4 linked regions of the Homo sapiens genome follow. The protein of the gene in region 1 purifies or fractionates together with the protein of each later gene. This does not show direct contact. Each region holds a gene or a part of one and is shown on either strand. Other genes may lie near its edges.

Region 1 (7,425 bases):
GATCACTTAAGCCCAGGAGGCAGAGGTTGCAGTGAGCCGACATTGTGCCACTGCAGTCATCTAGGTGACTGAGCGAGACCCTGTCTCAAGAGAAAGAAGGAAAAAGGCCTGGGCTGGGCACGGTGGCTCATGCCTGGAATCCCAGTACTTTGGGAGGCTGAAGTGGGTGGATCACTTGAGGCCGGGAGTTTGAGACCAGCTTGGTCAACATGGCAAAACCCCATTTCTACTAAAAATACAAAAATTAGCCGGGCATGGTGGAACATGCCGGTAATCCCAGCTACTCGGGAGCCTGAGGCACGAGAATTGCTTGAACCTCGGAGCCTGAGGTTGCTGTGAGCTGAGATTGCACCATTGCACTCCAGCCTGGACAAGAGAGAGAAACTGTCTCAAAAAAAAAAAAAAAAGAAAGAGCCCATAAATAGAAAGAAACCTCCCTGATAACGGGACAATTGAAATAAGAACAAGTAGGCAGCAGGGGTCACTAGACAGTTTGGCCAAAACAAGAAACCCAGGGGAATCATCCTCATGTATAAATGGTGACCCCAGAAGAGGTCCATCCTTACCCTGGCAACGGAGAAAAGGCCATAACTTGAGTGCCAGCTGATGGGGAACTGGGCAGGGCTGGCTTTGCACTGCTGTGTCAACTCGCCTAGGCTGGGGCCTTTCTCCCAGGACTCCCATCCCTGTTAAGTTTCCGCTGCAGAGGTGTGGAGGGTGGGTAGGTGGAAGTGGGAGGTGGCTGGCTGAGCTTAGCGATCTTGGCATTGCTAGCAGGCATTGGACAGGAGGTGGCAGGCACAGGCATGGCTCCTCTGCTCCACCTGCCCTTCCTGATCACCTACCCTGTGACCGTAAGACCCTGTGAAGGGCCAGGCATATGGTGGCTCACACCTGTAATCCAGCACTTCGGGAGACCGAGGCGGGTGGATCATCTGAGGTCAGGAGTTCGAGACCAGCCTGGCCAACCTGGTGAAACCCCGTCTCTACTAAAAATACAAAAATTAGCCGGGCGTGGTGGCGTGTGCCTGTAATCCCAGCTACTAGAGAGGCTGAGGCACAAGAATCGCTTGAATCTAGGAGGCGGGGGTTGCAGTGAGCCAAGATCGCCCCACTGCACTCCAGCGTGGGTGACAGAGCAAGACTCCATCTCAAAAAATAATAAAACTGTATCTGCAAAGATCCTTTTTCAAAATAACATCACATTCACAGGTGTCAGGGGTCAGGTGTTGAATGTGTTTTGGGGGCTGGCTGCCATTCAACCCAGTACAGATGACATTGTATCTAATAGTAAACCTAAGTGCTTGTATTTCTGCAGAGAGGGGTCAGGGTGCATTAGTCAGAAGTGGATATTCTGTAATCTCTGGGTTTCAGATTCCTCTGTAAATCCTTCCTGCAGAGTAAGACTTTCTGGAATAAGCATCCATCTCCTCTAGGGACAGCAGGATAGCTTTTGTTTGATGGCTTTGGAGCAGAGACAGGTATTCAATCTCCCCCTGCCACCAACTGGTTTGTGTGACAGATAGTCAGGTAGCTACTTCGCGCCTATAACTTGGGCCCCTCACAGTTGCTGAGTCGGGATGGAGGCCATAGTCAGGAGCTCCACCGGTCAGTGGTCATTAACTCTGAGAGGCACTTCCTTCCCCAAACCAGGCCCAGCGAAGCCTGCATTTCTCCCATCTGCGACATGGAGGCCAGAGTGGGCCTGACCGCAGGGTCACTGGGGATTCCATGGAAGCTGTCCCCACCCGCAGGACCAGGAGGTACATGCCAAGTCTCCCATCACAGAAAGAAGAGAGGCCACAGCCAAGTGTAGTCACAGTTTATTTCTGATGTGGCTGAATCTAGGGACAGGCGGGCTGGGCTGAGTGGGGGGCGTGTCGGCGATGGGGCTAGAACTCCACCTTGCAGGCCGGGAAGGCGTCATCCTGCATGGACACCATGCTGTTGCTGCCCAACACCGTGATGCCCAGCGCCTGGTGCCGGGCGTGCGTCTCTGCGTACCACGTATGCATGGCCACCGAGTCGAAAGTGGGGATCAGGGTCACCTGCAGGTGGAGGGGGGGTGTGTGGGGAGAGTGGACCACCAGTGAGGGGGGTGCCCCCTGCCCTTCTGGCCTGGGCCCAAGTCGCCTTCCTTTCCTGGCATTTGAGACCCCTCCTGGCTTTTCCCTGATCTTGTGTGCTCCACCTTGAGGTCTGCAATGGGTGGTCAGCCCGTCTGTGAGGTCCCTGTTCCTCCCAACCAGCACCCAAAGAGCCTTCTCAGCACACAGGAGACGGAGCTCCTCCTCTGCAAGGCCTTCCTTGGCCTGAGACCCCTCTCTACTCACTTGGATCTCCCCCTGCTCCTTGAACACACCAACCTCTTTCCTACCTCTGGGCCTTTTCCTGGGTCGTGCACCCTACAGGGACACTCCTTTGAAGCCAGCCTAGCAGCTATGAGAGGGCAGGGGCCGCGGTGTGAGGCGGTCCTCCCTCTGCCCACATGCACCTCGCCCTGCAGGGCTTGGTTTCAGTCTCTCAGCTTCATGCAGCCATGGGGGAGGGTTCTCAGCCGCACAGATACCACCCAGCCCACCTATTCCATCCCGACTAATTCTCACAGCGGAACAATGGCTAAGTGACAAGGTGTCTGGGGAAGGGATAGAACCATGAGGCTTCACGAGGCCCTGCGTCCTCCCCCAGGCTTCCAGCACAGCCAATGACAACAGTGACACGACAGAATCAGAGTCCGAAGAGACCCCTAAGGGCTGAGCCATGTGAGACTCCCACATTCGCCCCCATTCCCGTGTGGCCTGGGGAACACAGCTTAGTCTCTGAGGGTCGAGGGTGGTTTTACCCATCTGTGCTAACTACACTTACCACCAGAGGCCCTGGGGTGACACGCACCTGCAGGTCACGGTCCCAATGCTGCTTGCTGGCCAGTAGCGCGTCCAGGACGGCCCGCATGCCTTCCTCCTTGCGCTGGTCCTGGCCACTGATGACGTAGCAGAGCGCGCGCACGCGCTGGAAGAACTCCTCATCCACCAGGTGGGCGCTGCTCCCGCTGGGCAGGTAGGCCAGGTCCAGGTAGACCGGGGACTTGGGTGGGGTGGCTGACACCCCGGGCCGGCTGCTGGCTGACCCTGCGGGCGGGGGGATGGGGAGGCAGGGATGAGCTCCTGGGGCTGGGGAGGGGCCGAGGCTCCAAGTTCGACCTGCACCACTCAGAGCAGCTCCCTCCTCAGCAGGAGGCCTGAACTCAGAGTTTTCTGGGGAGGCCTGGTGCGCTCATGACTCCAGTGAATCTTATTTTAAGAAATGGGGTCTCGCTATGCTGCCCAGGCTCGTCACAAACTCCTGGGCTCAAGTGATCCTCCTGCCTCAGCCTTCCAAGTAGATGGGACTACAGGTGCATGTCACCACGCCTTGACTCCAGTGACTCTTCACTCACTCTACAAACACCACCGGCCACCCCTTTGTGCCTAGAGCCTGACTCATCCCCAGCCAGTCCCTGGACATAGACATCCCCAGGGCTGGGGGGCGAGTGGGTGGCAATCAGGGAATGCTTCCTGGAAGAGGGTTTAAGAGTTTGAGCCCTGAAAGCAGCCAGTGCCTGGACCATCTGCTGCTTCTGCAGCATTTGTCTGGTTCACTTGCTCAAGGGGCATTTAACAGAACCTCATGGGCACCAGGCCCTGAAACAGGGCTGTGACCAAGACAGACAGAATCCCTGCCCCAAGGGTGATGGGGAGCCAGGGTGGGTGGACAGAGCCTTGAGAGGCGGGCCCAAGATCACTGCGGGATGCTGGATGCGGATGAGACAGCAGCTCTGGGGGCCTTGTCCAAACCCTGACCTTAGGGCCAAAGGGGACAAGGCCACCAGCCCTGGGCAAGTGAATGATCAATGAAATGAAAGGATACGGCTGGGTCTCGGGCACAAGAAGCCTGCCAGACCCTGCATCTTACAATCACAGCTGCTGCCCAGCTCAGGGGGTAAGAGTACTACCCCGTCTGTATACCAACAAATGCATACCCTCAGCCGAAATGGACACATTCCTAGAAACACAAAAACTACCAAGACACAATCACAAAAATAGAAAATCAGCACATACCTGTAGCTAGCAAGGAGAATGAATCAGTAACTTACGACCTCCCAACAAAGAAAAGCCCTGGGGAAGCCACTAAACATTTAGAGAACTAACATCAGCCTTTCTCAAACTTTTCCGAGGAACTGAAGAGGAAGGAACACTTCCTAACTCATTTTATAAGACCAGAATTGTCTTAATACCAAAGCCAGGCACAGATATTTAATTCTACAAGAAAATGCCAGTTCAACAGACTTTATGAACAATAATGTAAAAAATCAGGCCTGGGGGTGCAGTGGCTCACGCCTGTAATCCCAGCACTTTGGGAGGCTGAGGCAGGCAGATCACTTGAGGTCAGGAGTTCAAGACCAGCCTAGCCAACATGGCGAAACCCTGTCTCTTACTAAAAATACAAAAATTAGCTGGGCGTGGTGGCAGGTGCCTGTAATCCCAGCTACTCGGGAGGCAGAGGCAGGAGAACTGCTTGAACCCAGGAAGTGGAGGTTGCAGTGAGCTGAGATTGTGCCACTGCACTCCAGCCTGGGCGACAGAGTGAGACTCCATCTCAAAAAATAATAATAAACGAATTCAGCAAAGAAGCAAGGTACAAAGTCCACAGGCAAAACACAGTTGAATTTCTATACATGAACAATGAACAATGTGAAAAGGAGATTAAACAATCATGAAATAGAAGAATCAAGATAGAGGACTCACACTTCCAGATTTCAAAACTTACTACAAAGCTACAGTAATCAAAACAGCGTGGCACTGGCATAAAGACAGACATATAGACCAATGGAATACAATAGAGGCCCGGAAATAAATCATCACATGTATGCTGAAATGATCTTCAACAAGCGTTCCAAACATTCAATGGGGAAAGGATAGTCTTTTCAACAAATGGTGCTGGGAAAGCTGGGCTTCCACATGCAAGAGAATGACACTGGATCTTTTCACCACATACAAAAATTACCTCCAAATGGACCTAAATGTGAAATGGAAAACTTAAAACTCCTGGAAGAAAACATGGGGTAGAAGCTTCTCACTGTTGGATTTGACCAGGCATGGTGACTCACATCTATAATCTTAGTACTCTGGGAGGCCGAGGCGGGCAGATCACTTGAGGTCAGGAGTTTGAAACCAGCCTGGCCAACGTGGTGAAACCCCGTGTCTACTAAAAACACAAAAAAAATTAGCCAGGTGTGGTGGTGGGTGCCTGTAATCGCAGCTACTCAGGAAGGCTGAGGCAGGAGAATCGCTTGAACCCGGGAGGCGGAGGTTGCAGTGAGCCAAGATAGTGCTCCCATGCTGCAGCCTGGGCAACAGAGCCAGACTCATCTGAAAAAAAAAAAAAAGAAAAAGAAAAAAGAAAAAAAATCGATGTGGCAATCATTTATTGGGTCTGACATCAAAAGTGCAGACAACAAAAGAAAAAAATAGACAAAATGGACTTCATGAGAATTTAAAACTTTTGTGCATCAAAGGGCACTATCAAAAGAATAAAAAGGCAGCTCACAGAATGGGAGGAAATATTTGCAAGCCATTTATCTGCTAAAGGATTAATGTCCAGAATGATTTAAAAAACTCCTAAAACTCAGCAACGGAAAACAACTCAATTTAAAAATGGGCAAAGGGGGCTAGGTATGGTGGCTCATGCCTGTAATCCCAACAGTTTGGGAGGCCAAGGCGAGAGAATCGCTTGAGGCTGGGAGTTCAAGATCAGCCTGGGCAACATAGTGAGACTCCATCTCTACAAAACATTAAACAATTGGCCAGGCACGATGGCATGCACCTGTGTAGTCCCAGCTACTTGGGAGGCTGAGCTGGGAGGATCACTTGAGCCCAGGAAGTTGAGGCTATAATGAGCTGTGTTTGCACTACACTCCAGCATGGGTAACAGACCGAGACCCTGTCTCTAAAAAGTAAAACAAAATTTTAAAATGAGCAAAGGAATTGAATAGACATTTCTCCAAAGAAGACAGACAAATGGCCAATAGGCATATGAAAAGATGCAACATCACTAATCATTAGGGACATGGAAATCAAAACCACAATGAGATCCCACCTCACACCCATTAGACTGGCTAGCGTCAAGCAGCTGCTGTGGAAAACAGTCTGGCGGTTCATCCAAAATTAAACGTTGAGTCGGGCGTGGTGGCTTATGCCTATAATCCCAGCACTTTGGGAGGCCGAGGCCAAAGGATCACTTGAGTTCAGGAGTTCAAGACCAGCCAGGGCAACATAGTGAGACCCCAGTGCTACTGAAAAATTTTAAAATTAGCTGGGCGTAGGCTGGGCACAGTGGCTCACGTCTGTAATCCCAGTACTTTGGGAGGCCGAGGCGGGCAGATCACGAGGCCAGGAGTTCGAGACCGGCCTGACCAGCATGGTGAAACCCCATCTCTACTAAAAATACAAAAATTAGCTGGGCATGGTTGCGCATGCCTGTAATCTCAGCTACTTGGGAGGCTGAGGTAGGAGAATCGCTTGACCCCGGGAGGTAGAGGTTGCAGTGAGCTCAGATCGCACCACTGCACTCCAGCCTGGTGACAGAGCAAGACTCCATCTCAAAAAAAAATTAGCTGGCCGTTATGGTGCGTGTCTGTGGTCCCACCTGTTCGGGAGGTTGAGGTGGGAGGGTTGCTTGAACCCAGGAGGTCGAGGCTGCAGTGAGCCATGTTTGCGCCACTGCACTCCAGCCTGGATGACAGAGTGAGACTCTGTCTCAGAAAAAAAACAAAGAACAGCACAGCAGGCCAGAGACCCTCCTCTCAGCAAGGCCTGCTTAAAATGTGAGCCTTTGGCTGGTCTCTGGGAATTTGGATCTTAGGCAGAGGGTTCCCACCATTCCCTGTCTGAGAGGGGCTCCCTGTGCCTGGACTGGACCACACACCTGATTTCTCCTTTTTGGGGAGTCTAGAGTGTGGGTGCCAGGCAGAAGATGCCTATGTAATGGCCCAATAGGAAACCTGGGCATGCTGTGTCTAATGAGCTTCCATGAGGGACACACTGTTACAACTTGCTACTGGAGAAATGAAGCCTGTGGTGTGCAGCCCCACTGGGAGAGGATTCTGGAAGCTTCTGCCTGGTTTCCTTTGGACTTCACCCTATGTGCCTTTTCTCTTTGCTGATTTTGCTCTGCTATGAGTGCAACCATAGGCCGGGTCCTCCTAACCAATCAGTTACATAAAATACGCTATTTAAATTTTCAACTGTTTCATTTTACTTATTGTGGCTTCTAGAAACCCACAGTTGGCATACGTGCTCACCTGTCCAGGCACCTCAGAATGGCAAGTGCTTCAACACTGAGGTCAGTTTCCATTTCACAGGAGAAACTGAGCCCCGGAGAGGTGGG
Region 2 (9,682 bases), on another chromosome or scaffold:
TGAAAAGCTATGGGAGCAGGATTTTCACTTAGCGCTGGAAGGGCCTGCATCTTGAGCTGCAGCCAAGACCCCAGAACCCAGGAGAGCCATCTTCAGAGGAAAAGCAGCATCTGCTACGGTGTGTAAAGAAACGGCTCTGCTCACTCACTTGGTTGATTCTTAATGGGATCAATACAGTCATTTCGGAGTTCCATGCAAAAACCTGACCAAATTAGGGAATTAAAAAATCAGGAAGCCATGATGTCTATTGCAAAGGGAACACAAGGGGGCTTCTGGGGTTCCAGTAATGTCTGTTTCTTGATCTGGGTAACCCAGGCGTGTCCGTTTTGTGAAAATTCGTTGAGCTGCTCATCTTTGATTTGTGCCCTTTCCTCTCTATATAATACTTCAACCGAATTTTTTAAAAAATTAATGTCAAGAAGACAAATCTGAATTTTGTCACTAAGTGCTAGTAGTGTAAAAACGAGTAAAGGCAGGGAGCCCTTCTTCATAGCAGTACGTGGATGCGTCTGTTTTCTCCATAAATAGATGCAGCTTGTATAAACCCTCTGAGGAATAGGGCGCTGAAAGGATGATCAGATGAGTAACAAAGCAGGAAGATAATTACGATCCGAAGGTGATTGCTGAACCATCTCCCAGCATGGGGCGCTGCCCACAAGTGGATGGCCATACAAAGGCAAGCCCTGAAAACTGTTGTACTGAAACCTTCCTCCCATCATAGGATGTTAGCCAACCCTGCACTAACATCATGACAGGGTCAGAAAACGAGTGACGCTGCAGTACTGGTACTTCTGTCACTTATGAGTGCTGTGACCTTGAGCCGGTTCTCTTACCCTTCCTGCCTCTCTGGGCCCCCAGCTCTAAAACGGGGTTGATGATCCCTCTCCTAGCACCACCACATCGAATGGTTATGAAGATTTTGTAGATAGAAAAGCACCTCCTAATATATTCCTATTTCCCAGAAATGCTACTTACAAATAATTTTTTAAAGAAAAAAATCCAAAGTCATTGATTCCCACAATAGCCACACCCAAAGTCAGTATGTGTAAAATTTTTCCAGGAGAAAATTGTGCAAATAAACTAAATTAGAACAGATTAGACCAAAGGCCTATATAGTCTGAAAATGAAGGGTTATTGAGATGCTCAAATAAGACATTTCACTACTGAAATATCTCTTGTTCTTGAATTTTTTGGAATAAAATACTATGACTTTCTGCTCACATTTTTTTTCTTTTTTTTTTTTAAGCTAAAAGGGAAAATCAAGTGCTTTAAAGTTAAACAAAAGAACCAGGTCTGCAACTCCAGTCCCCACCCTGCAGCCTTTTGTTCTGGGGACAAGTGGCCGTTTCCAACTGCAGAGGCAGATGACAAGCATTTATTTTTTCATCTAAAACAAGGTTTTTCTTTCGTCTTTTATTGGGGAGGGGGAGTGGGGAACGAGGGCTGCGTGAACGCCCTTTGTCCGCCTCGGGCTGCCGTAGAGACCGCAGTGCGGACTGCACCACGCCCACCAACCGGTGTCTCCCGGAGAAACGCTTCAGCACCACCCCAGGAGAATAGAGCGCGGGCTGGGGCTGCGGAGGGACCCGGCGACCTCTGTCAGGAGCGAGGGGAGGGCCGGGACGCCAGGGATAAAGGGAAAGGCAGAGACCAGAGCTGCCCACCCAGGGACTCCCAGGGCAACAAAGCCAGGCAAACTGAGAGGTGGGGGCGCGCGGCCCCCGCCAGCCCGAGGCCCGGGCGGAGCGCAAGCCCAGCCAGCCGTGCCCGACGGGGGCGCCGCAGTGTGGGGGGGCAGGTGTGGCGGGCGGTCCGGAGGCACTGCGGCAGCTCGGGTGGGGCTGGGGGCGGTCTCTCTGTGCGCCCGAGGCTGTGCCCGCCGGACCCTCACGGCCCCGCCCAGGGTCCCCGGCGTACCGCTATTCGGCCTCCGCAGAGCGCGCCACTGGTGCGAGCACCGGGCGAGGAGCTGACCCTACCCGCTGACGTCTCCCTCACCGACCCCCTTCAAGCTACCACTCCCGAGGCTGGGACTTCTAAAAGCAGCAGCCCCACCCCGCAACTTGGGGTCCCATTGTCCTTTCTGAGAGCTGCAGCCAAGGCCCCAAGGGCGGTAGCGAGGCGGGCTCTGTCTGGTGGCGAAGCGCAGGCGGTTCTGCATCCCAGCATCTCCCCGGGGAGGGGGGGGCGGGGGGAGCGGGCGTGGCCCTAGGACTAGCCTAGTCATTCTGAGGAAAGAAAGGATCGGGAGGTTTGAAATCAGAAAAGGCGTTTCTCAGGGGCTGAGGTAGCCGTGGTGAGGATGAATCCCACGCGGGCCCTGGCACATGGGCTTCGGCCCCAGGTCTGCGGTGGTGGGGGTCCCAGCCTTTTCCTGAGGCCAGAAGAGGACTGAAAGGAGTGGTTGCATCAGGTCTCCCCCACCCTTCTGCCTCCTGCGGTTGCGGCTTTATTGTGGCCTCTGCTCCCCTGACACCTGCATTTCACTTAGCGGGAGAGGCGGTGGCCAACTCAGCACAGGCTGCGGACTCAGCGTGGTGACAGATCCCTCAAGGTTATTGGAGACTCTCCCTCTGGGTCTCATATCTAATAATTCGGATTATTCTTAATTAGCCCAGAAAGGGTCTGGACCAAGTATGAGAGGTGACGAGGAGAGGCATGGGTGCGGGGCGCGCGGGAGGAGCGCAGTGACCGTCGCGCCCTGGGTGGGGTCGTGTTTGCGCGTCTCCCAGCGCGCGTCTCTGGGGGCGCGGGGCCACTTACCGAGCTCGATGTTGCCGATGGCACGCCGCAGGTGCTCCTCGGTCACGATCTCGCCGACGACCACCAGCAAGTAGAACTTGCTGTCAAGGAAGCGGTGCGACAGGCTAGGCGAGGTGGACGCCGCCGGGTTGGCGATGCTGCCGGACGGCTCCGGCTCGGTGGCTTCCACCACCACGGTCGCCATCCTGCCGGCTGCTGTGCCTCGGCGAAGTGTCTCGCTCCGGCCGCTCCTCTCCACTGCGGCAGGAGAAAGGATTATCTCCGAAGGTACTGTCTCCGCTCCGCCCCCTGCGTCCCCCCTCCTCTGGCGCCGCGCGCCGCCTCCCCCTCCGCCCTCTCCCAGCGCCGCGGAGAGTGCGCGGCGGAGAGGAGCGGGGAGTGAGAGAGGGCGGGGAGGCGGCGCCGCTTTTATATGGAGACTAGGCAGGGAGCCGGGAGGAGGAGGAAGAGGAGGAGGAAAGGACCACCCGGCACATCCTCACGCGGTGGCTGCCTCCGCTCTTCCAGCCGTTGGCCCGGGGCTGATGTCATCTGCAGCAAATCATCTCGCCCGCGGCCCGGAAGCTGGAGGGACGAGGTGTGCGGACAATGGTCGGGGCAGGGCCGCGAGCCAAGGGGCTGGGGCGCCCGCTGAGCTCCTGCTGCAGCCGTGAAGGGGGAAGACGCTCTCAACCTACACCACCCACCACGTACACACCCACTGCCCACTCCTCACCCTCACCCTGTCTGTGCATGGGAATGGGATGAGTTTCCATTTTCGGAGTGGGGGTCTTTTCTCTTGTTGGAGTTGCACTAGTCAGGCCTCTGCCTTGTGTGCTGTGTATGATGTAGCCAGGTTCTCAGGAACTGGGATAGCCACAGTGGGCAGATGCGGGGCTGTGGGTACCCCGCCTAGGAAGACGGAACCTGTCTTTTCTTTGACCTTGTGGCTTTAAGAAGACGAATTTACTGATATTTACCAATATCAATATTTACCACCTTCACTTAAAGAATACATCAAAAATGCAAAACTTAAGCCTACTATTGTTCAGGCCTTGGATTCTACTCTGGCAGGGCCAAGGATGAAAAAGTACTGGCTTTGTGGTGCTCATGGGAAATGAGAGAAATGCAGATGTATTATATTAGATACCAATTTCTTTCCTTAATGTGCTGAACAGATAGTATCAGTAATAACAAAGAATAAAGAGAAGATACTGTCTCTACTCAGCAGGGTTACAGTGACTATAATGTACTTTTCAGTTCCTTGGGGAACACACAAGCAAAATTACCTCGTGACAATGATGTCTTTTAAAATACCTGTAGCATTGGGAATTTTTATTGCCTTTGTTTGTGTTTAGAAGAACTAAAAAATGTGTTTTTTGTTTTTGTTTTTTTGTTTTTTTTTTTAAGGCAGCCTATTTACAACCGTTTCTCACAAACATACTGAATATAGCTTCTGTCCCAGAAAAGGGGAGGAGGGTGAGGAAAGAGCAAAATGTGCAAACATGGTATCATAGAAGACTGGGGAATTCGAGCTTTAAGGAAGAGGAATAGATGGAAATTAGTCAACATAGCTTTAATACTAGAATGCCTGTTAGTAAAATATAGATGATAGATAGATAGATAGATAGATAGATAGATAGATAGATAGATAATCACCTAGATATTCTTAAGATTTCCAAAATAACCCAGTGTCTTAGGTGTTAGCTGCCATGACTTATTGGTCATGTACTCTTTGCTCTTATATCTTTCCTGACACCCTGGCATGGGAGACATGCTGGGCAGCCAAGGGCTGGGGGGTTCCATCCAACATGTCAATCTGATCAATGCAGAATGAAAATACCGTCTGGCCCGCAGTATTTGGGATCTGTGACAGGATCACTAGAGAGTTGCATTCACCAGTAATTAGATGAAGTGTTTCCAACTAGCTGCATTCACCAGTAACTAGATGAAGTGTTTCCAGATAATATTTTGGTTAAGATATTCAATTGCTGTTCAAGAAGTAAGGCCAGCACCAAAGCCCATAACTGGGGTGAGGGGCAGGAAATATGGTGAAGAGCACTGTTTTCTAAAGGTCATCCGTTGGATTCCAGCCTCATCTAGTTTGTGTTTGGTTTTCCTTTCTTTGAACCATTGTTACTTTTATGTATGTAATAGTTTTCTTTTATGCAGTTTATTTCTTTTACTTAAATTTATTTTTAAATGCAATTCTATGTTGCTGTATAAATGGAAACACTAATATCACTTATTAATAGAAAGTATCCCTAAAAATATACACAATGAAGATAAGATGTGATCAAATTCCTGCTACATACTGTTATGATTTGCTCAAGACTCTGAGTCCAAGGCTCTCCTTTCTTGGTTGAAAACAGAGATTGGCCAAGTGTTAGAGAGGTATTAAAGAGATACTAACACCTAACTGAGTTGTTCTCCATGTTGCAACAGAAGATTGGATGAAAATTATAACAGAGCGCTTTCTTACTGTGTGTGTCTGTGCAATTAAACACCATGACCGTGACCACCTAAGTCATCACCCACACTTTGAAAAATAGAGGCATAATGGGAGAACACAGACTAGGGATGCAGAATACTACTTTACAGCTCGGTAACTTTGGCAAGTGACTTACTCTTTTTGATCTTCCATCTCCTTATTTAATGAGAAGAAGAACATCTTTATAACTGTTAAAGTAACTGTAAGAAAGAAGGAAATGATAGAATGTGTAAGCACCTAATACAGTGGCTGGGCATAGTAAGCAATCAAGGGATGGTTGATTCATTGACCTGTTTTCTCCCAGTTACTAAGACAATGGAGCAAAAGCAGTCTTATAAAATGTGCAAGTGATACTGCTACAACACCTCTGAAACAAGAACAGAATATTACATTATTATACTTCAATACTAGAAAAGTAGCCCCTTCCCCTCTTCATCCCAAGAAAATGTATACAGTTCTAAGGAGGAAAAAGGGGGAAAACTAACATATAAGAGCACCAATATTGCCAGCTGCTCAACTGACATCACCTGGATATACCAAAGGCACCAGAATCTTGACATGCTCCAAACCCAAATCATCTTTTACCTCTAAACGGGATCCTCTCTCATTCTTGTTATTTCAATGAACCATAACACCATGTATCCCATGATGCAAACCAAAACCTCACAAATATTTTGGACTCTCCCCTGACCCTTAGCCTCGTGTGCAATCCAGCATGGAGTCTGGTCAATTTCACCTTCAGTATCTCTTCAATCCATCCACGTTTCTCCATTATCACCAACCTAGTCCAAGCTAGCATCATTGTGATAGGTACTAGTGTACCGGTTAGAAAATGGGTTCTGGAGTCAGACTGCCTGGTTTTGAATCCTAATACCATAATTTATTAGCTGTGTGGCCTTAAGCAAGGTGCTTAACCACTCTATACCTTGGTTTTCTCATTTGTATAGTAGAGATGAGTACCGACCTCATGGACAGGAGGACAGTTTAAATATGCAAATTACTTAAAACAGTGCCTTGCATATAATGAGCACTTAATAGGGATTAGTTGTTTTTGGTATGGGGTTAGTTGTTTTTGGCTGTTATTGTTTAACATTTTACTATGGAAAATTTCAAACAGAGAGAGTATAATGTAAGTAACACCCACATACCCATTATCCCCAATCCATAGATTTTTATAGTTTGCTTCTTTAAATCAAGATTGAAATAATGTCTATATATTTCAACTGATTCATCAGTCTTAAACTCCTTTGATCTATGTAATCCTGCTATTTTTTTCCTTGTAATTTTCTGTTGAATAGTGGCAACATTGTTCAGCAGAGTTTCACAAAGCATAAATTTTGCCGATTGCATCACCTGTTGTGTTATTTAACATGTTCTTCTATCTTCTGAATTTTCTGAGAGAACTAAAGTCTTGATCAGATGCAGATTTGATATTTTTTACATGTATACTTCATAGGTAATATTGTGATCTTCCATCAGAAGGCACCTAAAGACTAGTTAACCCTCATTCTGTGATTTTAGCAGCTATTGATGATCATTACCTAGATCCATTATTTCACTATGGATTGAAAAAATGATAATATTCTAATTTTGTTATTATTTATTTGACAGCTAGAAGACTTCTGTTAGGAGAAGCGTTATCCTGTCAGTTGATTACCCTGAGGTACGGTATGTACAGGAAAAGAAGGATAAACAAATGATTTTTTCTCTTTATTTACTGATTTTCAAAATAATTAATTTATTCCAAATCATTCTCTAAAGGTGACTAATTTTTTGTATCATTACAAATATAACTTACATTATTCATATTGATGCTTTCATTTTTTCATCTTTGGCCAGTAGTATGGTAAGGTATCCCTAGCTTACCTTGCACATATCTGGCCTCAGAACCTGGAATGAGCCGTTTCTCTATGGAATCCAAGTTCCTTACGTGGGTAATGGTATTTGGAGACCCCTGTATACCAGGTGCTACTACTATTTTGATCATTGTTTCTAGATATTTTCAGTGGACAGAAATATGAAATAAATTGTTTTTCAAGTATGAGTTCATACTTATACCTCTAACTCAGAATCGGGACTACAGGGATTTTGCCTAACGTTTTATCTTGCATCTGTATTTCCTTTGTCCTATGCCTAGAATTCCAGTTTTCAAAGACTCCAAGGTGACAGAATTAGAACAGCAGATAGTTTCTCATTTTTCTTGTTCCACAATATATACAAATTACCCTCATGGTAGTTTTAGATACGAATGCAACACTTTTGCCAACAATGTGATTACTAAAAACATTTTAAGGTATATAGTTTTTTTGTTTGTTTGTTTGTTTGGTTGGTTGGTTGTTTTTTTTGTTTTTGTTTTTTTTTTTTTTTTTTTTTTGAGACCGATTCTCACTCTTGTTGCCCAGGCTGGAGTGCAGTGGCGCCATCTCGGCTCACTGCAACCTCTGCCTCCCAGGTTCAAGCGATTCTCCTGCCTCAGCCTTCTCAGTAGCTGGGATTACAGGCACCCACCACCATGCCTGGCTAATTTTTGTACCTTTAGTAGAGATGGGGTTTCGCCATGTTGGCCAGGCTGGTCTCAAACTCCTGACCTCAGATGATCTGCCCGCCTCAGCCTACCAAAGTGCTGGGATTATAGGTGTGAGCCACCGTGCCCAGCCTAAGCTATATAGTTTTAAAGTGTAATTAATTCTGTTATATATGATCGTGCCACTAACTCAGTGCATAGTTATGTTCATTTGTTTCATTTTGTTTTCAGTTTTTATGAATTGATTTTTACAATTTAATTTTGCTTTATAGTAATGTAAAATATTTACATGGTTCCAAGGTGAAATCTACAAAACAATTTGTATTTGGAGAACTTTAGCCTCTATCCCTGTCCCCTCCAGCTTTCTCCCTGTCTCTTCCTGTGAGTAACAATTTTTTACCTTGATTTAGCCTTTCACTTTAAAAATGCAAGTAGCAGCATATACATACAATTTTCTCCACTTTGCTTATTTCATCAAACACTATATCCCGGCTATAACGCTACAATAATATATGTTAATATTCCTCATTTTTATTTATAGCTGCATAGTAACCCATTATGTTTATTTACTATAATTTACTCAACCAGTCCATTGTTGGTGAACATTTGAGCTATTTCCAGTTTAATTTATATTGTAAACAGTAGGTCTAGCTATTTTTTTTTCCCATGCAACCTCAATAGTCACCTTACTGGCATCTGTATATCCACAATGACTCACCCAATCCATGCTTCACACAATATGGAGAATGATCTTTTCTGATCTGGTTTTGTTGCCCCATCTCCACTTAAAACACAAATGGCTCCCCATTTTAGAATAAAGACCAGACTTCTCAGTGTCACCTACAAGCTGGTCCCCATTTATCTCAGCAGCTTCATCTGGCCCCTCCACTTGCCCTTACTTTCCAGCATCAGCCACAATGACTTTGTGCCAAACCATCCTTCCCTCCAACACAGGCTTTCCCTTGCTTTTCCTCCTGATGAGAGCACTACTTTTGTCCATTTTCTGTTGCTGTAACAGATTACCACAGACTGGGTAATTTATAAAGAAAAGACTAGTTGAACTCTATGCTCCACAGGAGCAAAGAACATGTCTATCCCCACCCCCACACACCCTTTTCACACCCACCCAGCCACCCATATACCTTAGCATTCCTCTTGCTCAGCATAGGGCATATGCTCAGTCAAAGCATATTCAATGACTAAATGAATGGCTTCTATGAGCCATGGTAGTGTGCTAGGTGCTTAAAGTACTTCAGTGAATTCCCACTGGTATTATTTATATTTTTGATGGCTTAAAGTCTGTATTGATGTCTCTTTCTCATTTCTGATCTCGATAATTTGTATTTTCTTTGTTTTTTTCTTGATCAGTCCAGCTAGGGGTTTATCAATTTTGTTAATCTTTACAAAAACCTACATTTGACATTATTGATAGTTTTCTATTTTATGTATGTGTATATATATTTTCATTGAAGCTGTTTTTATCCATGCTGTTTTGCTCCTAATTTCTTTGGGTTTTATCTTACTTCCTATTGTAGCTGCTTGAGAAGCTTAAGTAATTAATTGTCAGTTTTCCTTCTTTTCTGATAAATACATTTAAGGCTAAATATTTCTAACTCCTGCTTTAGCTGCCCTGTACACATTTTGATGTGTTGTGTCTTTATTGTCATTATCATTCATTTCATAACATTTTCTAATGTCATTGTGATTTCTTTTTTGCCATTAGTTATTATTATTGCTGTTTGACAGATGAAAAACTGACATGGAGAAAAGTTAGACAATTCCTCCAAATCACAAAGATAGTAAGTTGAAAACTTGTGAAAAGAACTCTGCTATGTCATATTTCAAAGTCTATGACCTCCCCTATATGGTACCTTCACTGATGCTATTGAATTTAAAGCAAATAAAGGAAATGAAGCACAGCCCAA
Region 3 (6,447 bases), on another chromosome or scaffold:
GATGGGGTTTCACCATATTAGTCAGGCTGGTCTCGAACTCCTGACCTTGTGATCTGCCTGCCTCGGCCTCCCAAAGTGCTGGGATTACAGGTGTGAGCCACTGCACCCAGGCAGATTTCTTTCATGGCTTGTGATTCTTCAAAACATATCTTAAATTCCTTTGACTGGTAGGGGCAAAGAGTAAGAAGATAGGAAAAATTTAAAAGTAGGTCATCCTAAAATGTTTTGGAGTTTCCTAGGGCTCTAAAATAAAACAATGCCCATTCCTCTTAATTCTCTTAAATATATGTGTGTATTTGTGTACATACACTTAAATAGACATAGATATAATAGGATATAAAGTCTAACTGCAGAAAATTGCAATGTGAGTGGAACACTTGACATATTAAAAGGAGGACTCTCGAGATTGAATTAAGAGTGGTTAACAGGCCTCGCTGAGTTAATTTGCATACATTTTCTAATTTAGCAAACTGAAGAGAAATCATCTTCATAGGTTTCTTGTCCATGTCATGTAGGTGGTTTTGCTTGGATGACAGCAAATCAGTCATTTGATTCCATCAAATCAGGCAAGATATCGAACAGGTTAGTAAAAAGAAAAATAATTAGGAAAAGAAAAAAGGGCAGGGTGTTTCAGTTGATCAACTCACACAACTGTCCCCAACAGACTCCAGTATAGATTTGCTGAAGCATATATTGTAAATTCAGTTCTTCATTTTTTAATAATCTTTGTATGTTTCATACTTATCGTTCTTTTTATAATCTTATAATTTGTATCCAATTATACAATTTATTATTATTTGTAAGGGCTCAACAGGGTAGAGACAAATGACACTTTGAGGCATTACCTAGGGTACAAATACCATTTTTAAAAAGGAATGGAAGCTTTCCAGAGACAATATACCTTCTGTGACAGACATTAGTGAACTCATCAGCTTTTCCTGTTCTCTCCCCTCCAGCTACGTGGTGATGCTACTCTTCCTGACTCCCTCGAAGTTAGGAGTGTCCATGTGACTAATTCTGAATACTGGGTTGTGGCCAACCAGACATGTATCACTACTGGCTGGAGCTAGTATGAAACTCTCCAGCTCCCCTTCTCCTTATTGTGGTGACCACAGATATCTCAGATGGTTGAGGCCCTGTCAGCAGGTCCCTGGGTGTGGATGATAGGAGCAGGGCGCCCTGCCAAACTGGGGTGGGCCTGGAGCAAGAGTGAGGAATAACCTGTATTATGTGAAGCCGCTGAAGGGTGAGGGTTGTCAGCACTGCATAATCTAGCCTGTCCTAACTAATATACGTCCCTTGCTTGGAAAATGCAGAGTCCAGGTCATGAGTTTTAACAAAGATACAGAAACGAAATATGCTGGGTGGCACAGTGAAATTTATTTGTCTTTATGATTTACACATAATAATTAAACACACAAAAGAAAAAACACTGTCAAGATGGCCATATGTAGCTTAGGAAATGACTGGTCCCAATGCAATCATATAAATGTTCATTCAGCGTAAAAATGAGTTTCTTTTTAATGGTTTTAATCTTTTTTTTTTCAGTCCCCAAGGCTTGTACCACTCAGTACAAATGTTTTTGCTACTGGGTTATCATCAGGAACATGATGTTTACCAATTCCCAGGAAATGAATAAAATCAACAGAAACATCCTGTGACAACAGAGCACATTTTCATAGAAATGAAATTGATGAGCTTATTACAGTTTGAATCAGTTCAGCTATTAGATCTACACATAAAACATGAAACAATATTAACAAATTACATTTGTATTAAGTTTTTATTTAAAAATATTTATCACACTTTTTTGTGCAAGGGTTCCATTGATTTCTTTGGTTTTAAACACGATAGATCTATTTTACCTAAATATATATAGTTCTATTTGTACCAAACATCAAAAATCAAAAAAACAAAATTTCAAAGGGTAAAAATGGAATTATTGCTTCAATATAAAAAAGGCCTAGCCCATTTGAGAACTACTGCCATTATTGCTTTCCTATTTGAAAAACTATCCTGGAAATCAAGGAATGTACCCCATAGCTCCCTGCAGAAAGTATAAATTGGTTGCACATTATCATCATATTAATATGACCCTACCTTCACCAAAGCTATCCTGATCTTGTCCTTAAAAAATGAAACAAAGCAAAATAGCATAAATAAATAAGTTTACCTAAGGGGATACAATAAATAGCCTAGTATACTAGATAGGAATAAAGAATATTGTAACATAAAGCCCTTCAGTGCTGTACAATGCAACAATAGCTTTGGATTTTCAAGGTTTAGAGACCTTGAAAATCCATTTCATAACAGTTTTATTACTGGTATGCAGCTGACAGAACAAGAGAATACACTTCTTTTGTTCTCCTCATCTTAGAGTGAATGCACAGCAGATACAACTGTCAATTCTGCCTTTTGGGAATTTACCTGGGCATGTACCATTGTCACTTTTTGACCTCTGCCTAATTGTAGGGCAAAATCTTAGGATTAAAAATATCCAAATATTCCTTCAATTCCTAGTGGTTTCTTGGTCTCCAGAATAGTTAAAAACAGAGAGGAAATTAGACTCAAAAGTTTTGCTGCCTTCTTTTCTTTGCATCCATCGCATCCAGAATGGGCTGTCTTTTCGCAGTGTATCTCTGACGAAGTTCTTCTATCTCCCGTTCCATCATGGGGTCCAGTGCTTTTAACCGCATCTGTAGTTCTTCTAAACTTAGATTTTTCAACTAGATACAGAAAGAAAGATACCAATACAATGAAATTATCCACATTATCCACAATCAATACAATGAAATTAGACTTTAATGTCTAATGAGTTTTAACATAAATATTTCAGCAAATTCTTTACATCATCTTTGAAGTATAGTTCAACAATTAAAACAGGAATTTCTTCCTTGAAGAACTCAGAGGTCATATCTTGCAAGAACCTCCAGTAATCTGCAATGAAGCAATCCGATCCTCTGCCTTTAATAAAGGGCAAATGAGAAAAATACGCTGATGGAATTTGTAAAAAGGTACAAAGACAAATCCACCACTGCCAACAAACAGATTTTCAGAATATGTTCCAGGTATATTCACTCTAACTTTTTACATCTTTGCCAGCTACTGAGTGCTACAATAATCATGAACACTTGCAGAGATCACTCAAGAATGTGACAAGACTGAATAAAGGTTAAATTAACCATTCTATCCTCCATTTTACTAAATGCTTAATAAAGAAGATGACTGTGGTAGGGGGCGGGAAGTAAGGCTGAATAGGCCTGGTGGGGCCCCAAAAGCAGGAAGCCATGATCAATTCTGGAGTAGGACAGTTATGTAAGAGTAATCCAGATTTGGTTTTCTTTTCTTCTTCTTCTTCTTCTTATTTTTTTTGACACAAGGTCTCAAACTTCTGGGCTCAAGAGATCCTCCTGCCTTGACCTCCTCAGTAGCTGGGATGTGCCACTGCACCCAGCTCAGGCTTGGTTTTAAAATGATAAAACTTGCAACTTACTTTTTGTTTTAAGAAGATAATTGCCTTTGGTTATTTTATGAGTCAAGCTAGGAAAAATACTCATTACTTATAGTCATCCAAAGTAGCATTTCTCAGCAGATCCTTTTACTCGCCATCCCTGGCCCTATCGTGACTTCTGCTTCCAAAAACCAAATTCACTCTTAGCTGAAAAAGACTCTGAGGATACTGAAAAGAATGAGTCATAGACTCTCTGAAGGAAATTCAAAAAAGGAGTTCCAAAAATATTTTGAGAAATGACAGTGTTATGGAGAAGAGTATGCAGGCTTCCATGATGATGACTTTGAAGGTGAATGCCACTCACTTCGGTGCATAAGAAGTTCTGGTATGTATATTAATAATCAGCCCTGTTATTTTGTAGTCATATGTCATGAAAGAACCTAGCTTTTAATATTATGCCATAAAACATACATTTATATATCATATGTAGTATTATACACTTTCTTCATTGATTTTTAATCCAAGTAGTGATCTTGCATCTGTTACATGCTCAGTGCTGTTCAAATCACTGTGGAGATACAGAATAAGACAAACAGGGAAACTCCAAACTTTGAACTGTACACATCGGTAATGGCCACATTGAAAGGCCAATGTATACCACACAACCACATTTCCCAAGAAAGACATGCCCAACTATGTCTATGTAGGATCCAGTTCCACTTCTGTGTTCTTCAACATCATCTCTATTTCAGCCCATGTTAATCTTTCCCATTTCTAAATTTCTATGTAACACTCATAATTTAAACAACACAATTTAGTATTTGATTCTAAATCATGTACTATTTTATAATTGATTTTTATGCATGAGTTTCATGTCCCTAGATATTCCAAAAAATACTTAGACTTTAGAGACTGTACATACACCAAGAAACTATCCTACTATACTGCAAATAACATGACGTAAACGTAGATAGATAAATATGAATAAGAATATATGACCCAAAGGAGTGGGTTACTCTAAGATCAGAAGAACTAACATATTATATAAAGCAAACAATTATCATTACTTTAATTCTGAATTAAGATATTCCTGTAAATATCTTGTACTACTTTTACTGGGGCAAACTGCCAATAGGTTTATAAATATTGTATTGCAGTAATAGACTGAACTCAGAAAAAGAAGCTACTTAGAAGAAAAATTTTCTTCCTTTAACAGATTTTTATATTATCAATGCGTAAAATTTGTGAAAAACAGGTCTGTGATATTAGAGAAACATTATCTAACATTATTAAGGAATTAGGTGTTCATGTAAGTAAATTAATGAAGTACCTAAATCTTAGTTCTTTAAGTGATAAAACTTTGTCTCAATATCACATACACACACATATACACACACACACACACACACATGTGCACACACACATGTATTTACATATGCTCTTTTTTGGTTCTATGTGACTTTTAGGATTTTTTTCTAATTTTGTGAAAAATGATGTTGGTATTTTGATAGGAAATGCACTGAATCTGTAGACTGCTTTGGGCAGTAAGGTCTTTTTCATAATATTGATTCTTCCAATCCATGAGCATGGGATGTATTTCCATTTGTGTCATGCATGATTTCTTTCAACAGTGTTTTGTAGTTCTCCCTGTAGGGATCTTTTACCTTCTTGGCTAAGTATATTCCTAGGTAATTTATTGCTATTACTATTATTATTATTAATTATTTTACAGCTATTGTAAAAGGGGTTGAGTTCTTGATTTGATTCTCAGCTTGGTCACTGTTGGTATATAATAGTGCTACTGATTTGTACCACTGATTTTGTAACCTAAGACTTTACTGATATGGTTTGGCTGTGTCCCCACCCAAATCTCATCATGAATTGTAATCCTCATAATCCCCATGTGTCTAGGGAGACACCTGGTGGGAGGTGATTGGATCATGGGGGCAGTTTCCCTCCATGCTGTTCTAGTGATAGTGAGTGAGTTCTCACAATATCTGATGGTTTTATAAGGGGCCCTTCCTTCTTCAATCTCACTCTGCTCTCCCCTCTCACCACGTGAGAAGGTCCAGGCTTGCTTCACCTTCACCTTCCACCATGATTGTAAATTTCCTGAGGCCTCCCCAGTCACATGGAACTGTGAATCAATACACCTCTTTCCTTTGTAAATTACCCAGTCTTGGGTATTTCTTTATAGTAGTGTGAAAATGGACTAACACAGTTAACTGGCACTGAGGTAGTGGGGCGCTGCTATAAAGATACTTGAAATGTGGAAGCAACTTTGGAACTGGGTAATGGGCAGAGGTTGGAATAGTTTGGAGGGCTCAGAAGAAGTTAAGAAGATGTGGGAAAGTTTGGAACTTCCTAGAGACTTGTTGAATGGTTTTGGCCAAAATGCTGTTAGTGATATGGACAATGAAGCCGTGGCTGAAGTGGTCTCAGACGAACATGAGAAACTCACTGGCAACTGGAGCAAAGATCACTCTTGCTATGCTTTAGCAAAGGGACTGGTGGCATTTTGCCCCTGCCCTAGAGATCTGTGAAACTTTGAACTTGAAAGAGATGATAGGGTATCTGGGGGAATAAATTTCTAAGCAGCAAAGTGTTCAAGATGTGACATGGGTGCTCTTAAAAGCATTCAGTTTTATGGATTCACAAATAGATGGTTTGAAATTGGAACTTATGTTTAAAAGGGAAGCAGAGCATAAAAGTTTGGAAAATTTGCAGCCTGATGATGTGATGGAAAAGAAAAACCTGTTTTCTGGGGGAGAAATTCGAGCCTGCAGCAGAAATCTGCGTTAAGTAATAAGGAGCCGAGACAATGGGGAAAATGTCTCCAGGGCATGTCAGAGATCTTGCCAGCAGCCCCATTTCATCACAGGCATGGAGGCCTAGGAGGAAAATTAGTTTCATGGGCCAGGCCCAGGGGCCCTGCTACTCTGTGCAGCCTTGAGACATGGCACCCTGCATCCCAGCCATTTCAGTTCCAGTCATGG
Region 4 (7,901 bases), on another chromosome or scaffold:
GTGAGCACACAGAATAAAGTATCACCACCCACTGTGGATAATGTCAGCATTCATTCCCACCCCTGACAGCCAATATTGGCCAGGCTTGGAATCACTGAACACACATGGCAGCAGAGTCCCTTGCCCCATAGCTGCAGACACAGGTTGAACACTGGTGTATCCCTGGGCTTTTATGAAGAGAGAGGCTTATAACACCCATTGCCATCTTTACACACACAGTGCAGCAGGTACTGTGCTGAGAACTTTACAGCCGTGATCTTATTTAATTCTTACAATACATGTGATGAGACACTGCTGTCTGACTTCTGTAGATGGGGAAGGCCTGGAGAGATTGGTAACTTGACAGAGTCTCATGGCATCTGCAACAGGCAGAACCACATTTTAAACAAAGGTTGAGTTACTTCTAAAACCTGTGCTTTGCTAGTCTTCTGTTCTGCAACACTGGTTAAGAGCATAGACTCTAGAGCCATGCTGCCTGGGTTTGAGTCTTGATTCTGCCACTTACTAGTTGGGAGACATTGGGCAGGTTACTTAGCTACCCTCCTCCTTGGGCTGTTCATCTGTAACATAGGGATAATAATGTCCTTGTAGCATGGGTTGCTCTGAGGATTAAAGGAATCCATATATGTAAAGCACTCAGTGTCTGGTGCATAGAAAACACTAAATGCCAGCCATTATTATTAATTTATATATCAACTCATTGTTTTTCTTTGGATGATAGAAACTTAATCTCAGAAGTTTGAGGTTTTTCTAACTACCCACCCTTACCCCAACCCCTGCCAAGGGTTGCGTCTGTATTCCCAAGGGGCTTAGACTGTTACCTGGTATATAGTAGCCTCAAGTAAATGCTGGTGATGATAATAGGGCAGTGCCAAGACATTGGGGGTGTGGGAAGGCAGGGTTAGGGGATGGCATCTGCGCCTCATCAGCATCGATCCTCCATGGTGTCGTATCCTGAAAGTGGGAAAGGCGCTGTCCAGATAGACGCTTATCTCGTAGACAGAACAAGAACGGGGAGGCAACCATTATTTCACATACAGCAAGTTACTGTTATTTTAATGCCCTAACAATGAATCTATATTTAATTAACTTAAAAGATAGGGGAGGTGAGAGTATTATTCACTAAGTTCTTGGTCAAGGCACATTAAATCAAAGCGGTTAGCACTTAGATCTCTTCCAGGGATAAATTATCTCAGACAAGCTTCAAGGTATGCCATGCTTTGGAATGAATTGTCACTTTCCAACCACCACCACTCAACCTGTGATCTGACCACAGTGTCTTCCTCCTGTCTCCCTTCCCTCTGGGTGCCTGGGAAGGCTGGGCTTCTGCACTGTTCTGCCACTGACTTAAGCTTTGTCGTGACTATACCTTCCACTTCTCTTCTAGCTTAAGAGTTGGACAGTGGAGGACCTTCAGAAGAGGCTCTTGGCCCTGGACCCCATGATGGAGCAGGAGATTGAAGAGATCCGGCAGAAGTACCAGTCCAAGCGGCAGCCCATCCTGGATGCCATAGAGGCTAAGAAGAGACGGCAACAAAACTTCTGAGCAAGGCCAGGCTGTGAGGGCCCCAGCTCCACCCAGGCTTTGGGTGAATTCTGGATGGCTTGCCTCATGTTTGTTAGCCAGCACTTCTGCTCTGTCGTCTCTCCACAGCACCTTTGTGAACTCAGGAATGTGCGCCAGTGGGAAGGGCTCTCTTGACAGTCAGCGTGCCATCTTGATGTGTGTATGTACATTGGTCAGGTATATTATCTCAAAGGATTTATATTGGCGCTTTTAACTCAGAGTTTTAAACCCCAGGAACAGAGACTCCTAGTTGAGTGATAGCTGGGAAAGTTTTACATTGTCTGTTTTTCTTCTCCCAATAGCTTTCAATTGTTCTTTCTGGAAGACTTTTAAAAAAATATAAATATGCATATATATATATAAATTATAAATAGATTCCCCACGCAGTGTGGTGGCATCTCTGTACAGGTACAGTTTTAAACGGTTTGCCTCTTTTCTGTAAGATTATGGTACTGTGGAACATGAGGGCAGAGGACACCGGGAGGCTGTTAGGGGGTCACTGAATCCCAGGAGCCAACCTCCCCCTTTGCAGGGCTGCATTTAAAAATTAGGTTTGGGACAGTTCTTGTACCGTGGTTTCAGCCTTGTGTGGTCATCACTGGCTTCTGGAGCTATTGGTGATGTCCAAGGGAAAGCTTTGAGAGTTTATGTTTACTCTTTGAGTCCCAGGAGAAGCCTGGCACCCTCTTTGCAAATTGGCCTTTGCTCTTTCAATGCCTTTCATCCATCTCCACTCTCTCAACTGCCTAAAGTCACAGCACAGATACTGCCCAGTGCCTTAAGAGGAGACATGATCTCTACCAGGGACTCTCAGCAAACACGGGACTGTGTTCAGTCCACAAAGGAAAAGCGTTTTTGAAGCTCTCATTGTTCATGTAAAAATCATACACGTGGCATGTTGCTCCACATTCCTTACACACAGGGGTAGAGGGGATTGCTTTTGTGACCCACGTTCAAATATGTGACTGTTTTCTTTTCTCTTTTACTGCTAAGCAGCCTGGAAAGGATAAATGAATATTAGACTAAGATTTGTTTTCCAGGAGGCTCAATCTGAACACACAGAATGTCAGAGCTGGAAGGGACTATAGAGATCATCTGATCTGATCCTCTTGTACGGATGATCGCAAAACTGAGGTGTAGAGAGGGGAATGGCCAAAATCACAAAGCAAGTTAGCGTTAAGAGCTGAGACTAGAATTCAGGGTCCTCACTCCCAGGCCACCGAACCATGCAGCCCCTTCTTTGGGGGAAGAGACCTGTGTCAGTCTTGGTTAATTGTTCCAGGGAACCTTGCTAACAGAAACTTGCTCTTGCCTTGGCTCTTCAGTAGATGACCTGGCTGTAAAGAGATTCCCTGGACGAGCCAGATCATTCAGTTTCAGCGAGTCCTTGAGCTCCACAACATCTACCAGATATAGCAGACAAGCACCCATGGAGGCAGGTTTCGGGCCTGAAGCAGATCAGAGGGCTTTGCAAAAGACAGCATAGAGCCATCTTCCTGCAACTTTACCTCTTTCCCTCAGATGGGGAGCCATGACTGGGTTGCACCTCAGGATACTGTAATTTGACTCCATAATTGCTTTTGCTCCTGAAACCTGGGAATCAATGGAAAGGCAGGGAATGTGCCTCTTCTGTGGCCAGATTCTGTTATTTGCAATTAAAGCAAGTTTTTAAAAAATGCAAGAGGCAGTTGTTAGTCTTCAGGGCTTGGCAACTGAAATAGCTATGTGGCGGATACGGAAAACAGAGGACAATTTGAGGATCTTGCTGGAATAATAAATGACAGCTACCATTTGTTGAGCACCTATTATATATCAGGCACTGAGCTGGGTAGGCTCTAAACTTCACAATAACCCTGTGACTTAACTACTTTATCTCCATTTTGTAGTTGAAGAAATAAGTTCAGAGAGAAAGATTCCTTCCCAAGGTCATGCAGCTAGTAAATGATAGAATCAGGATTCATAGCATCACTATAGGGGGTCAATATTTACACAAAAAAGGAAAGTCACAAGCCTGTTTAAAATGAAGTGACCACCTTTTCTTGCATAGACTAAATAACTCGAACTGGCATTTTTAGGTTGGAAAGACAGCTGAATTAGTAGTTAAGTCTGATAGCCAAGTAAGTTTTAAAAACCAAAGCATCCAGGATGCACACCCCTGCACCATTTGCTGTGCGAATTAATAGTTCTGTCTCTCTCTCTCTTTCTTTTTTCTTTTTATTCTTTGAGATGGATTTTCGCTCTTGTCGCCCAGGCTGGAGTACAATGGCACGATCTTGGCTCACTGCAACCTCCGCCTCCCGGGTTCAAGCGATTCTTCTGCTGGGATTACAGCATATGCCACCATGCCCAGATTATTTTTTTGTATTTGTAGTAGAGACGGGGTTTCACCATGTCAGTCAGGCTGGTCTTGAACTCCTGACCTCAGGTGATCCACCCGCCTCAGCCTCCCACACTGCTGGGATTACAGGCATGAGCCACCGCTCCTGGCCTCTCTTTCTTTTTTAAACAAAGAACTTTGCACTTGGCCAGAGAGGAGGAGAAAGCCCATTTTCTCCCTTCCTAAGCTAGATCCAAATAAAAGAAAGTTCAGTTTTCCCCCATAACTATTCTTGGGTCATGAACTTTGATCTGGAGTTTGTTTTGTTTCAGGAATGTGTGCACCCAGCTTGCTGATCCAACAAAGTCTATTGCTTACCAGTCTAGCTTGATGAAGCCTTTTGGCCAGAAGTCAATTTGTTTTGGATCAGAGAAATTTCCTGACAAGGTATATTTGTTTTCTAGTGACAGAAAGGCAAAGGAACAAGTCCTAGTTGTTGTTGTTGTTGTTGAATACTAAATTTAAGATATGTCAGCTTGCTTTCAATGAGCCTTGGGCTTCTGTTATTGCTTGAGCATTTGGAACTCGAGCTTCCAGAGAAATTTGAGGTCCTCGCTTGTTCTCTGCCTTCAAGAAACAATGACCTGATTCTGTCTTTAAAAAAAAAAATCTCAGAATTCTTTTTTTGTTTGTGTTTTTTTTTTTTTTTGAGACAGAGTCTCACTCTGTTGCCCAGGCTGGAGTGCAGTGGCGCCATCTCGGCTCACTGCAACCTCCGCCTCCCAGGTTCAAGCAATTCTCCTGCCTCAGCCTCCCAGGTAGCTGCCACTACAGGTGCTGCACCACCACGCCCGGCTAATTTTTGTATTTTTAGTAGAGACAGGGTTTCACCATATTAGCCAGGTGGGTCTTGAACTCCTGACCTTGTGATCCACCCGCCTCGGCCTCCCAAAGTGCTGGGATTACAGGCGTGAGCCACCTTGCCTGGCCAAAAATCTCAGAATTCTTTAAGACTGTTTTAATTGCTCCATCAGTAATTTTGAAGCACTTTCCTTTTTTTTTTTTTTTCCCCTTTTTGTCCCTTTCCCCAAGCCACCAATTGGATGGATGAATGTTTGACGGGGAAGAGGAAGGGTAGGAGGATGCATGGATGAGTGGATGAGTGGATCGATGGATGTATTGATAAATAGATAGAACCAGTCATCTGAAGCAACTTAAGAATTGTAGCCTTGACTCCTTGAGACTGTAGATTTCGATCCAGGAAACATTTATTTAGCACCTGCCAGATGCCAGAAATTTATACCATTTAAAACTCAGTAAGTCTTTTAAATATCAGGAAGGAGAGAAGCGACATCATGATACATCCTATGGGTATTAAAAAGCCAATAGAATATTATGAATAATTTTATGCTAATAAATTTAACAACTTCAACATCATAAACAAATTCCTTGAAAAATAAAAAGTACCAAAATTCATTCAAGAAGAAATAGATACCAGCCTGAGCAACATGGCAAAATCCCATCTCTACAAAACATCAAAAAAAAAAAAAATTAGTCGGGCATGGTGGTGCACACCTGTAATCCCAGCTTGTCAGGAGGCTGAAGTGGGAGGATCACCTGAGCCCAGGGAGGTCAAGGATGCAGTGAGCCATGGTCTCACCACTGCACTCTAGCCTGGGTGACAGAATGAGACCCCGTCTCAAAAAAAAAGAAGAAGTAGATAATCTGAATAGCCCTATATCTATAGAAACTTAATAGTGCTGGGAGATATAGGTATTATTATCCTCATTTTACAGATGTGAAAATTGAGGCTCAGAGAAGTAAAGTCTATTGCTCAAGGTCATGTGGCTAGAATATGGCAGAGCCATGATTCAGATCCAGGTCTTCTGATTCTTATTCCAGTGTCCTTTCTAGCATACCATGTTGCCTCTAAAGATTGCAGCTCCTTATTTACTAGAAAATTGTTCCTGCCCAATCTACATCTCCACCTCACCCCATCTTTTCTTAAGCACTATGTTTGTGTTTTTATCAGTATTATATTCATTGTCTTTGGAATACATGTTCTTGTTTGTGTTTGGAAAAAAAATCTCTTTTACCAGCTTGCACTCGGACCAACTTGGAAAAAAAAAAGCTTAAATGTTTTTGCTATGTACAGTTTAAAAATGTGAAGTTTGTAGCTTTAACTTTTTGTAAGAAAATCTAATAACACTGGCTTAAGTGCTGACTTGAAATGCTATTTTGTAAGGTTTGGATGTAAGTAATCAATTGAGGTCAGCAGTTTGTATGAGACATAGCTTCCTCCATTGCCCCCACTCCTTTTTTCTTTTTTAAGTTTGAGATGCTTCCTGTGTTTTTATGTTAGAATTGTTGTTCTCCTTCTTTTCTTCTTCCTATACCTCATCACGTTTGTTTTAAATAAACTGTCCTTTGGACCACAAACCCTTATTAACGAGAACCTCAATATATAGCCTGGATAATGGTGTTGTGAACAATCTTTGTGACATTGACTCAGTGGTGTGTTTATTCTAAGATCCAAAGCTGGGGAGAGGTTGGTAAACTTTTGTTGGGCTTCTATTATGTGCCAGGGTACTGAGCTAGTTATCAGGAATATAATAAAGATGAACCAGATACAGTTTTTGCAGGGCATTTGGGGAGTTAGCCAAGCACAAAAACACACAACATTGAACATACCATGGTAGAAGAAGGTACAGGGCCTGTGGATACACAGAAGAGGGAGTGACGGTTCTGCTGGGATGTCCAAGGAAACTCTTCTAGAGGAGACAATATACCTTGAAACTTTAAAAATGAAGAAGAGATGGCTAGATTAATAAAGAGTAGGAAGTGAGGGAGAGAAGACATCCTGGACAGAAGAGCCCGCCTGTATAAAGCCTCTAGTGTGAGATGATCACCTTGGAATCCTTCATCCTCATCTGCTGCTGCACGAAGCCAGGCCAGACGTGGCCCAGCATTCAGAGGTGGAACAGCAGGTTCCTGCCCTGGTGTGGCCCATTCTTATCCAGGAATAGTTCTCCAGCCTGACCCTAGGTTTTTTTTTCAGCCTTAAAAGTTGACCCCACGGCAGAGAGGGAATAGAGTTACATTGAAAAGTAAGTGTAGTTCTCTTGAGTGAAATTGCTCTACAGTATTTAATAGAATAGTTCCACAGTCTGTGTATATAACTGTCATGTTATTCTGTGGGCCTTTCTTGGAGTGGGGTGATAAGTGCGTTTATTGTTCCCTAACTTACTCACCTCACTCCTTGAAATATTTAGTGTACCTTCCTTCCTGTAGCCAGGGTTGATGACAGATGTTCCTTATTGATCACACTGAGAACCTATGGCCAGATGAAGGAAAGAAGGAAGGATGAAGTAAGTTTATATTTATTAAGCACTTATTATCTGCCAGGCACAATGCAGAGCCGTTTAGATGACTTCATTTGTCTTCTCACACACACTCTTAGGTAAATGATAGTGTACCCTTTCTATAGACATATGGACTTTTACAGTGTGCAGTACTGCCCACCAGGGGGTGTTTTGGAAATGTATGAGAGTGTTTTTGTGGTGATAGTGATTGAGGAGCCTTACCAGCATTTAATGGGCAGGGGCAGGTTTGCTAGATGCTCTGCAGTGCATTCTGGGACAGTCCTGCATAACAAACATCTGTCCGGTGTCCAACACAACATTCAGATGTTCCACTGGTTATTAATTTTGGTGAAAATTTTGTTTATAAACGTGATACTAAACCAAAGTTCATTTACATGTAAACACAAAGTACTTTTTATATGGTTTTACTGTTTTGTTTTTTTTAAGAATGAACTATGAAGAATGGAGAGACACTTGTAGTTTGTTTTGTTTGGACCTTTACTAAGAGTTGTTCTCCATTTCAGAAAACCACATCATCAGTGACAGCGATGCTTGTGATTTTTGAGTCACTCACTCAAGATTGGTTTAGATCTGTAGCTGTTGTTTTCACAGAAAGTCTATGTAACATGTAAACACATGGTAATTTCAGAGAATG

The links.
Region 2: the proteins of MAP1S (region 1) and MAP1B purify together in Homo sapiens (affinity purification with mass spectrometry; 2 studies listed by BioGRID and IntAct, with this or other methods). This does not show direct contact.
Region 3: the proteins of MAP1S (region 1) and STK3 purify together in Homo sapiens (affinity purification with mass spectrometry; 3 studies listed by BioGRID and IntAct, with this or other methods). This does not show direct contact.
Region 4: the proteins of MAP1S (region 1) and STK4 purify together in Homo sapiens (affinity purification with mass spectrometry; 3 studies listed by BioGRID and IntAct, with this or other methods). This does not show direct contact.

The regions. Positions count from the first base shown.
Region 1 is NC_000019.10:17,728,896-17,736,320, reverse strand, and holds the end of MAP1S (microtubule-associated protein 1S), read right to left. Parts: intron 3,129-7,425; coding exon 2,893-3,128; intron 2,055-2,892; exon of another isoform or gene 2,049-2,054; coding exon 1,893-2,048; 3' UTR 1,808-1,892; downstream 1-1,807. UniProt on the Homo sapiens protein: Microtubule-associated protein that mediates aggregation of mitochondria resulting in cell death and genomic destruction (MAGD). Plays a role in anchoring the microtubule organizing center to the centrosomes. Binds to DNA. Plays a role in apoptosis.
Region 2 is NC_000005.10:72,100,797-72,110,478, reverse strand, and holds the start of MAP1B (microtubule-associated protein 1B), read right to left. Parts: upstream 3,005-9,682; 5' UTR 2,948-3,004; coding exon 2,764-2,947; intron 2,555-2,763; exon of another isoform or gene 1,885-2,554; intron 1,705-1,884; exon of another isoform or gene 1-1,704. UniProt on the Homo sapiens protein: Facilitates tyrosination of alpha-tubulin in neuronal microtubules. Phosphorylated MAP1B is required for proper microtubule dynamics and plays a role in the cytoskeletal changes that accompany neuronal differentiation and neurite extension.
Region 3 is NC_000008.11:98,453,275-98,459,721, forward strand, and holds the end of STK3 (serine/threonine-protein kinase 3), read right to left. Parts: intron 4,020-6,447; coding exon of another isoform or gene 4,017-4,019; exon of another isoform or gene 2,965-4,016; coding exon of another isoform or gene 2,911-2,964; exon of another isoform or gene 2,727-2,910; coding exon 2,568-2,726; 3' UTR 1,359-2,567; downstream 1-1,358. UniProt on the Homo sapiens protein: Stress-activated, pro-apoptotic kinase which, following caspase-cleavage, enters the nucleus and induces chromatin condensation followed by internucleosomal DNA fragmentation.
Region 4 is NC_000020.11:45,073,631-45,081,531, forward strand, and holds the end of STK4 (serine/threonine-protein kinase 4), read left to right. Parts: intron 1-1,387; coding exon 1,388-1,546; 3' UTR 1,547-6,391; downstream 6,392-7,901. UniProt on the Homo sapiens protein: Stress-activated, pro-apoptotic kinase which, following caspase-cleavage, enters the nucleus and induces chromatin condensation followed by internucleosomal DNA fragmentation.